Linked DNA regions of Homo sapiens. The protein of the gene in region 1 purifies or fractionates together with the protein of each later gene. This does not show direct contact. Each region holds a gene or a part of one and is shown in the gene's direction. Other genes may lie near its edges.

What was found.
Region 2: the proteins of FSD2 (region 1) and SLC27A4 purify together in Homo sapiens (co-immunoprecipitation; 2 studies listed by BioGRID and IntAct, with this or other methods). This does not show direct contact.
Region 3: the proteins of FSD2 (region 1) and LETM1 purify together in Homo sapiens (co-immunoprecipitation; 2 studies listed by BioGRID and IntAct, with this or other methods). This does not show direct contact.

Annotation. Positions count from the first base shown.
Region 1 is NC_000015.10:82,785,499-82,789,154, reverse strand, and holds part of FSD2 (fibronectin type III and SPRY domain-containing protein 2), read left to right. Parts: intron 1-1,686; 5' UTR 1,687-1,764; coding exon 1,765-2,403; intron 2,404-2,548; coding exon 2,549-2,644; intron 2,645-3,656.
Region 2 is NC_000009.12:128,357,507-128,359,884, forward strand, and holds part of SLC27A4 (long-chain fatty acid transport protein 4), read left to right. Parts: intron 1-2,378. UniProt on the Homo sapiens protein: Mediates the levels of long-chain fatty acids (LCFA) in the cell by facilitating their transport across cell membranes. Appears to be the principal fatty acid transporter in small intestinal enterocytes.
Region 3 is NC_000004.12:1,846,076-1,849,731, reverse strand, and holds part of LETM1 (mitochondrial proton/calcium exchanger protein precursor), read left to right. Parts: intron 1-522; coding exon 523-583; intron 584-3,656. UniProt on the Homo sapiens protein: Plays an important role in maintenance of mitochondrial morphology and in mediating either calcium or potassium/proton antiport. Mediates proton-dependent calcium efflux from mitochondrion.

The DNA of each region.
Region 1 (3,656 bases):
AAACCTTTTCAAAAACAAAAGTTTTTGCTACTTAAAAAAATTCTGTAGTGGGCATTTTTACATAAAATAATTTTTTTCCTTGTATTTGGGATTTTTCCTCAAGGTTCCAGAAGAGGATTACTAGGTTAGAGAGAGTATGAACAGGCTAGAGAGTATGAACACTTTTTTTTTTTTTTTAGACAGAGTCTTGCTCTGTCGCCCAGGCTGGAGTACACTGGCGCAATCATGGCTCACTGCCTCAGCCTCCCTAGTAGCTGGGACTACAGGCATGCACCACCACACCTGGCAAATGCTTAAATTTTTTGTAGACATGGGGTTTCACTGTGTTGCCTAGGCTGGTCTCAAACTCCTGGCCTCAAGCAATCCTCCTGCCTTGCCCTCCCAAAGTGCTGGGATTACAGGCATGAGTCACCACACCCTGCTGAAAGTGTGAACATCTTTAAGGTTCCTGACCCAGGTTGCCAAGCTTGCTCTTCAGAAAAGTGGGGCCAGTTTACATTCTAGCCGGCAGCATATGAGAGTGCTCACTTCACTGTCCCCTTATCCAGCTGCGGGTATCACTTTTGATATTTTTAAATATTTTCTAACTGAAAAGGCAAAACAGCATCTACTTATTTGTTCTGTCACTTTTTTTTTTTTTTTTTTTTTTTGAGACAGGGTCCTGCTCTGTCACCCAGGCTGGAGCGCAGTGGTGTGATTTAGGCTCACTGCAACCACCACCCCTCAAGGCTCAAGTGATCCTCCCACCTCAGCCTCCCAAGTAGCTGGGACCACACGTGCACACCACTATGCCTGGCATTTTTTTTTTTTTTTGTATTTTTGGTAGAGACAGGGTCTTGCCATGTTGCCCAGGACGATCTCGAACTCCTGAGCTCAAGCAATCCATCTGCCTCAGCCTCCCAAAGTACTGGGATTATGGGCATGAGCCACCACGCCAGGCCTGTTCTGTTACTTTTAAGTACAGTTTTTTTCAAATGTTTTTGTGCAGGTGCTATCATATACAAAAGTAATTGTTTTGTGAATTGTCTGTGCACATTCATCTATTGAGATGCCACTTTTTCAATTAATTTATACAATTTAAAAATAATAGACTGGGCGCAGTGGTTCATGCCTGTAATTCCAGCACTTTGGGAGGCTGAGGTGGGTGAATCACCTGAGGTCAGGAGTTCCAACATAGTGAAAACCCGTCTCTACCAAAAATACAAAAATAAGCTGGGTGTGGTGGCACATACCTGTAATCCCAGCTAGTTGGGAGGTGGAGGCACAAGAATTGCTTGCACCCTGGAGGCAAAGGCTGCAGTCAGCCGAGATCATGCCACTGCACTCTAGCCTGGGTGACAGAGTGAGACTCCATCTCAAAAATAAATTAATAATAATAATAATAATAATTGCCTGAGATGCTTCCCATTATTTTGCCTTTTAAGTTTTTTTTTTAATGTATGAGGGAAGTATTTTGTTGGACATATCTATTAGACATTTCTTTTGTAATTTCTTTTGTCTCTTTTAACCTTAGAAAGCCCATCCTCCCATAGAAAACAAATTTTTTAAAGATGGTTCAAAGTGAAACCACGACTGAACTACACAGATAATTTTTTTAAAGTTTTATATGAGTAGAGCCCAATCTAATGATCATCTACTGCAATGCCCTTCTCCAGAAATGATTTTCCTCCTCCTTTTGTGTTCCAGGGCCCAGATATTCACTATTAAGTGTCCAGGAAGGATCTTTCTTATATAAAGGTGCTTCTGAGGACTTCCAGAGTTACAATGGAGGAGGAATCGGGGGAGGAACTGGGGCTGGACAGGTCTACTCCCAAGGATTTCCACTTTTACCACATGGACCTGTATGACTCTGAAGACAGACTGCACCTCTTTCCAGAAGAGAACACTAGGATGAGGAAAGTAGTCCAAGCTGAAATGGCCAATGAGTCAAGAGGAGCAGGGGATGGTAAGGCTCAAAGAGACCTTCAAGAGGAAGTGGATGAACTTGTCCACTTATATGGACTTGAAGATGATCATGAATTAGGGGATGAGTTTGTTGATGAAAACATACCCAGAACAGGGGTTTCAGAATATCCTCCTTATATGATGAAGAGGAGAGACCCAGCCAGGGAGCAGAGAGACTGGAGACTTAGTGGAGAGGCAGCGGAGGCCGAGGACCTGGGCTTCGGAGGGTGGGGCTCAGCAGGCCAGTGCCAGGACTTGCGGGAAGCCTATAGGTACACACACGGCCGTGCCAGCGAGGAGTATGAATGCTATGTCATCCCCGAGGAAGAGGATGAAGAAGAAGCTGCTGATGTCTTCTGTGTCACTTGTAAGACTCCAATAAGAGCTTTTCAGAAGGTTTTTGATGAACATAAGGAGCATGAAGTGATCCCACTCAATGAAGCACTGGAAAGTGCCAAGGTAAATAGGTGTCCTTGGTTCTTCTCTGTCTTGATATTGCTTTGGTATCTCAAGTACATACGCAGGGAATAAATCTAAAACGCCTTCTACAAGAGTGAGAGAAGATGTAACATTAATACCTTCTTTGTGATCCTCTGTTGGATAGGATGAAATTCACAAAAACATGTACAAATTGGAAAAGCAGATAATTGAGATGGAAAACTTTGCAAATCATTTGGAGGAGGTTTTCATCACTGTGGAGGTAAGAGCACACTTGAAGACCTCATCAGACTCACATTTCTTCCATCAATGGCTATGTCAAGCAGCTGTTTCTGGTATGAGCTAGAGAATCTGTTTTCTTAGAATGTGAGGGGTCACCACTCCCCCTTCTCTCCTCCCTTCTTTCACTGACCTCCCATAGCACCTGGGCATGGACGTCATGGAACCAATTACCTGTCAGCATTCCCTGCTGAACTATAAGCTCTTGGTGTGAAAGCTGGGTCGTCTGTCTCAATATCCCTAGTCCTACTACATGGTATGTTTCAGAGCAGGCATTTTATACATGTTTGTTGCATGAGTAAATAAGGTAGAAATTTCCCAATCACAATCCCTCTCCTTCACTGGCTTCATTTTCTCCTAATCCCCCTTTACCCAAATCACCAATTGTATGTGATTTAGACCCTTATTCGAATTCTTTTTTTAATGTATACTGTTTTCATCATTCAACTTGATAGACCCTTATTCTAACAAAGATGACTTCACGGTGGCATCATCCAGTGAATTCCCTCATTTGAGCCCAGGTGGTGAAGAGGGGACATCCTTTCTTTTGCCCTTGTCTTTTTGGGTTTGTTTATTTGTTTTGGACCTCTTTTTTTGGGGTAGAAGTTCTTACTGAGAATCCCCGGGTTGCTATCTGGTGCATTGGCGGAGAAACCAGAAACAGTGGAGTTCCATGTTGTTCCGTTGGTTTCGGGAGTTGTTAATTTTAGGCTTTTGGGGGTACCTATAATGTTGACTATATAAAGTCAGGTGTAGACTGTCAAACACTTTTTTGTTGTTCTAAGAGGCAAAATACCCACTTCTGCCAATGATCGCTACTCAAACAAAGGAATATTTTTAGCTCTGCATGCATTTAAAAAATAAATTTATGGCTGGGCACGGTGGCTAACGCCTGTAATCCCAGCACTTTGGGAGGCCAAGGCGGGTGGATCACCTGAGGTTAGGAGTTCGAGACCAGACTGGCCAACATGGTGAAATCCCATTTCTACTACTAA
Region 2 (2,378 bases), on another chromosome or scaffold:
GTGTACGGAGTGGGAGAGGATTGCAGGCAGCCCTGAGGGAGCTGGGAGACGAGGGAGGGGCTGTTGCAGTTGTCCAGGTGGGAGGTGGGCAGCGGGCCCGCAGTCGCCCACAAGGCAGCACCATCTTTCTATCTGTTGGCCCATTGGTGGCTCTCAAGAGTTCCCTGGTGGGCAGGAAATGCTGAGGCTCATGCCCATACCTGCCCCTGCTTTCCTCAGCCCTTGGTGCCTCTTCTGGGCCCTCCCTGGCTGCTCACCCTTTGGAGCACATTTCCCTGGCCACCTCCCACGTTGTCGTCATATCAGTCCTGCCTTGATGGTGGGCACTCCCTAGCCAATGTGGCTTCTGCCAGAGAGTGGGTACCTGGAGTGCCTAAAGCATCGGGGAGGGTTTAGGACTTCAGTGTGGTTCTGAAGGTTGGAGACACTGTGGCCAGGCTAATGGCCAAGACCATGAGCTTCCGGAGGATTGAGCAGCACCATACTTCTGTCCAGGAAAGGCAGGGAGGCTCTCAGACCTTGTATTTCAGATGGGCTTTGCTGCAGAACAAACCACCCCCAAACTTACTTGCCCCAAAATGGCTCGAAACAACCAGTTTATTGATGCATAATTCTGTGGGTAAGCAATTTAGGGGTTAAGTGCAGCTGAGCAGTTCTTCTATTGACCTTGCTTTGGGGTCATCACTTAGTAACTTAGCTGGGGCAAGAGGCAGTTAGATGGCCTCACCCACGTGTCTGGCTCTCGGCTGCTTACCTCTGCAGCACTGTCCAACAGAACTTTCTGCAGCGATGGAAATGTTCTAGGTTTCTGCTGTCCAACACAGTAGCCACTAGCCTGGCAGAGCTACTGAGCACTTGAAAGGTGGCTGCTGGCTGGACGCCGTGGCTCACGCCTGTAATCCCAACACTTTGGGATTAAATTTTGTTTAATTAACTTAAATTTATTTATTTATTTGAGATGGAGTCTTGCTCTATCGCCCAGGCCGGAGTGCAGTGGTGCAATCTCAGCTCACTGCAACCTTTGCCTCCTGGGTTCAAGTGATTCTCCTGTCTCAGCGTCCCCAGTAGCTGGGATTACAGGCACGTGCCACCACACCTGGCTAATTTTTGTATTTTTTTTATTAGACATGGGGTTTTGCCATGTTGGCCAGGCTGGTCTCGAACTCCTGACCTCAGGTGATCCGCCCACCCTGGCCTCCCAAAGTGCCGGGATTACAGGCGTGAGCCACCATGCCTGGCCTTGTTTAATAATTTAAATGTAAATAGCCACATGAGGTCATATTGGACGGCGCCGGTCTGGGCCCTCACCTGGGATGGCTCATCTCTGCTCCACGTGGCCTCTCACCCTTTGGAAGGCTAGACTAGCCCCAGGGCACCCCCAAGCAGGTAGAGGTGGAAGATGCAAGGTCCCCCGAGGCCTAGACTCACCCAGAACTCCTACAACATTGCTTTTGCCACCTTCTGTTGGTTAAAGCAAGTTGTAAAGCCAGTCCAGATTGAGGCCAATGGAGATTGAAAAAGTCGAGCTCTTGCCAGGAGAAGTGCCAAAGCCACATAGCAGAGGTGTGTGTGTACAGGGAGGGGAGGAATCTGCAGCCATTTTTGGTAGTCTGTCTCATCCAGGTTCCAATCCCAGTTCTACCACCCTGAGCATCAGTCTTCTCATCTGTACAGGATTAATACCATTGATTGAAAGATGCGGCCAGGCGTGGCAGCTCATGTTTGTAATCCTAGCACTTTGGGAGGCTGAGGCAGGTAGCTCGCTTGAGCCCAGGAGTTCAAGATCTGGGTGGGCAACATGGCGAAACCCCATCTCTACAAGAAATACAAAACTTGGCCAGGCGCAGTGGCCCACGCCTGTAATCCCAGCACTTTGGGAGGTCGAGGAGGGTGGATCATCTGAGATCAGGAGTTCGAGACCAGCCTGACCAACATGGTGAAACCCCGTCTCTACTAAAAATACAAAAAATTAGCTGGGCGTGGTGGTGGGTGCCTGTAATCCCAGCTACTTGGGAGGCTGAGGCAGGAGAATCGCCTGAACCCGGGAGGCCGAGGTTGCAGTGAGCCAAGATCGTGCCACTGCATTCCAGCCCCGGTGACAGTGCAGGACTCCGTCTCCAATAAAGAAAGAAAGAAAGAATTACAAAACTTAGCCAGGCACAGTGGTGCACACCTATAGTCCTGGCTACTTGGGAGGCTGAGGTAGGAGGATCACTTGAGGTCGGCAGGTGGAGGTTGCAGTGAGTTGAGATGGCATCACTTCACTCCAGCCTGGGTGATAGAGTGAGACCCTGTCTCAATAAAAAAGAAAAAAATACCATGAATTTTTTATGTACGAGTAAGAAAATATGTGCTGCTAATTATACTAGTTCAGAGAT
Region 3 (3,656 bases), on another chromosome or scaffold:
TACAAAAATTAGCCTGGCCTGATGGTGCACACCTGTAGTCCCAGCTACTTGGGAGGCTGAGGCAAAAGGATCCCTTGAGCCCAGGAGTTCAAGGCTGCAGGGAGCCGTGACTGTACCACTGCATTCCAGCCTGGGCAAAGTCAAATAAATCAAAATGAACAAAAGGCTGAGCACGGTGGCTCATGCCTGTAATCCCAGCACTTTGGGAGGCCAAGGCGGGCGGATCACCTGAGGTCGGCAGTTTGAGACCAGCCTGGCCAACATGGTGAATGAAACCCTGTCTCTACTAAAAAAAAAAAATTAGCTGGGCATGGTGGTGGGCACCTGTAATTCCAGCTACTCAGGAGGCTGAGGCAGGAGAATCAATTAAACCCAGGAGGTGGAGGTTGCAGTGAGCCGAGATCACGCCATTGCACTCTAGCCTGGGCGCAAGAGCGAAACTCCAAAAACCAACAACAAAAAAAGGTATCAGTATAAATCCCTGATTTACTACTCATTTATTTTCCCCTGTTCCTGTTACAGGTAGTCCAGGGGATCCTGCTCATCTCAGCTGTGCCAGCACCCTGGGGTTGAGGAACTGCCTGTGAGTAAATCAGTATCACTCTGCACCTGTCTGTTTGAAAACAGGGTTTGAAAATGGTGGAGAGTCACGAGTGACTCTTGATTTTTGAGGGAAACAGTGTATCCTACTTTCCTGTTCTTTGTTTCTTTTAAACCTTTATCTTTCCATTTTGAAAATGATTGTCACATGCCTCAGTGAATCTATAGACAGTATAGAAACATTCCTAACCTCAGTGCCCAGTTGCACTTGGAGAGCTGGGGACAGAAGGCTTCCTGTCCCCTAACAGGAATTAAATGGAATTTAATTGTTGGACTCCCAGTTGGAGTGGGCACTGGCAACTGTGCCCTCAAAGTGCCCAGTGTCAGTATTTTGATGTACAGCAAGTCTCATTTAATGTCTGTAGGTTCTTGGAAACTGCGACTTTTTTTTTTTCTTTTTTTTTTTTTTTTTTTTTGAGACAGAGCCTTGCTCTGTCACCCAGACTGGAGTGCAGTGGCACATGCTTGGCTCACTGCAACCTCCGCCTCCCAGGTTCAAGTGATTCTCCTGCTTCAACCTCCCGAGTAGCTGGGATTGCAGGCATGCCTCACTGCGCCTGGCTAATTTTTTTTTTTTTTTTTTTGAGACGGAGTCTCGCTCTGTCACCCAGGCTGGAGTGCAGTGGCGCAATATCAGCTCACTGCAAGATCCACCTCCCGGGTTCATGCCATCCTCCTGCCTCAGCCTCCCAAGTAGCTGGAACTACAGGCGCCCGCCACCACGCCCGGCTAATTTTTTGTATTTTTAGTAGAGATGGGGTTTCACCGTGTTAGCCAGGATGGTCTCAATCTCCTGACCTCGTGATCCGCCCGCCATGGCCTCCCAAAGTGCTGGGATTACAGGCATGAGCCACCGCGTCCGGCCGCACCTGGCTAATTTTTGTATTTTTATTAGAGACGGGGTTTCACCATGTTGGCCAGGCTGGTCTTGAACTCCTGACCTCCCGTGATCTGCCTGCCTTAGCCTCCCAAAGTGCTGGGATTATAGGTGTGAGCCACCATGCCTGGCAGAAACTGCAACTTTAAGGTCCACGAATAACGTTTTATTATAACTTTGGATGAGAAAAGAAATTGGTTTTCTTATGTCTTTTTCCTTAAGGTTGCATTTTCTTTTTTTTTTTTATTTTTATTTTTTTTGAGACAGAGTCTCGCGCTGTCACCAAGCTGGAATGCAGTGGCGTGATCTCTGCCCACTGCAATCTCCACCTCCCGGGTTCAAGCAGTTATCTGCCTCAGCCTCCCAAGTAGCTGGGATTACAGGCGCGCACACCACACCCAGCTAATTTTTTTTTTTTTTTTTTTTTTTTGAGACCGAGTTTTGTTCTTGTCACCTAGGCTAGAGTGCAGTGGTGCAATCTCGGCTCACTGCAACCTCTGCCTCCCGGGTTCAAGCGATTCTCCTGCCTCAGCCTCCCTAGTAGCTGGGATTAGAGACGCCGCCACCACACCCAGCTAATTTTTGCATTTTTAGTACAAAAGTACAAAATTTTCACCACATTAGCCAGGCTCATCTCAAACTCCTGACCTCAGATGATCCACCTACCTCGGCCTCCCAAAGTGCTGGGATTACAGGTGTGAGCCACTGCGCCTAGCTGCTCCCGTTATTTTCTTTAGTGAGTTCTCCAGCAGTTGTTCCTCCCTGGGGACCAGTTCCCCCAAACCTCGTCAGTCTGGACCTTCCTTCTAGATGAGCTGAACCATTTTACTTCTAAAACAGTCTTTTTGGGATTGTATCTGAAGTGTCATTAAACCAGTTGGGAAGGAATATTACTTTTTTTTTTTTTTTTGAGACAGGATCTCATTCTGTTCATTGCCCAGGCTAGAGTGCAGTGGTGCAATCATGGCTCACTGCAGCTTTGATCTCCCAGGCTCAAGCCATTCTCCCACCTTAGCCTCCTGAGTAGCTGGGACTACAGGCATTACCAACATGCCTTGCTAAATTTTTTTCTTTTTGGTATTTTTTGTAGAGACAGGTTCTCACTATGTTGTCCAGGCTGCTCTTGAACTCCTGGACTCAAGCAGTCCTCCTGCCTTTGGCCTCCCAAAGTGCTGGGATTACAGGTGTGAGCCACTGCACCCGGCCTGTTTTCTTTGTATAGGCCACATGCATTGCATTTTAGATAATTCCCAGATGTTTATTATTTTCATTAATTCTTTTCATTATCTTTTCTAAGTGATCATTGCTGTCCCGTAAGTTGCTAAGTTGTACAATTTTCTTGTATCTGGCCCCTTTCCTGTTATTTGTTCAGCTCTTGTAGCAGCCCAGGTTTAGTTTATGGCTGTGATCTTAGTACATAGTAATCATCTGCCTCTTCTTTCCCAGGGCTTCTGCTTCTGAGGTGGTTTCATTTCTTAGCTCAGTAGCCAGATCTGTGTCAGAACAGCTGTAGTCAGTCATGCGGTATCACAATAGCAGAAAATACAGGATCTAGTGTTTGTGACATATGATGTTAGCTTTTGGGTTTAAGTAATCTTTGTTCTGTCTGTTACTCTTTTTATTAGGAATGGATGTTGAATTTGTCAAGCAACTTTTTAGCATTTAAATTTCATACTAAAACATAAATGCTGGCCGGGCACGGTGGCTCACACCTGTAATCCCAACACTTTTGGAGGCTGAGTCGGGAAGATCACGAGGTCAAGAGTTCAAGACCAGCCTAGCCAACATGGTGAAACCCCATCTCTAATAAAAATACAAAAATCAGCTGGGCATGGTGGTATGTTCTTGTAATCCCAGCTACTCAGGAGGCTGAGGCAGGAGAATTGCTTGAACCGGGACCCGGGAGGTGGCAGTTGCAGTGAGCCAAGATGGCGCCACTGTACTCCAGCCTGGGCTAACAACAAAACATAAAAGCTGTACTTTATTCACGTAACTTTTTTTAAAGTTCCCAATTTTGAACATCTACTTAAAAATTTAAACAATGAGGACTGTACAGCTGTTTTGATGGACTTGTCTACTTATCAAGAATTATGGATGAGGCCGGGCGCAGTGGCTCACGTCTCTAATCCCAGCACTTTGGAAAGTTGAGGTGGGCAGATCACTTGAGGCCAGAAGTTCA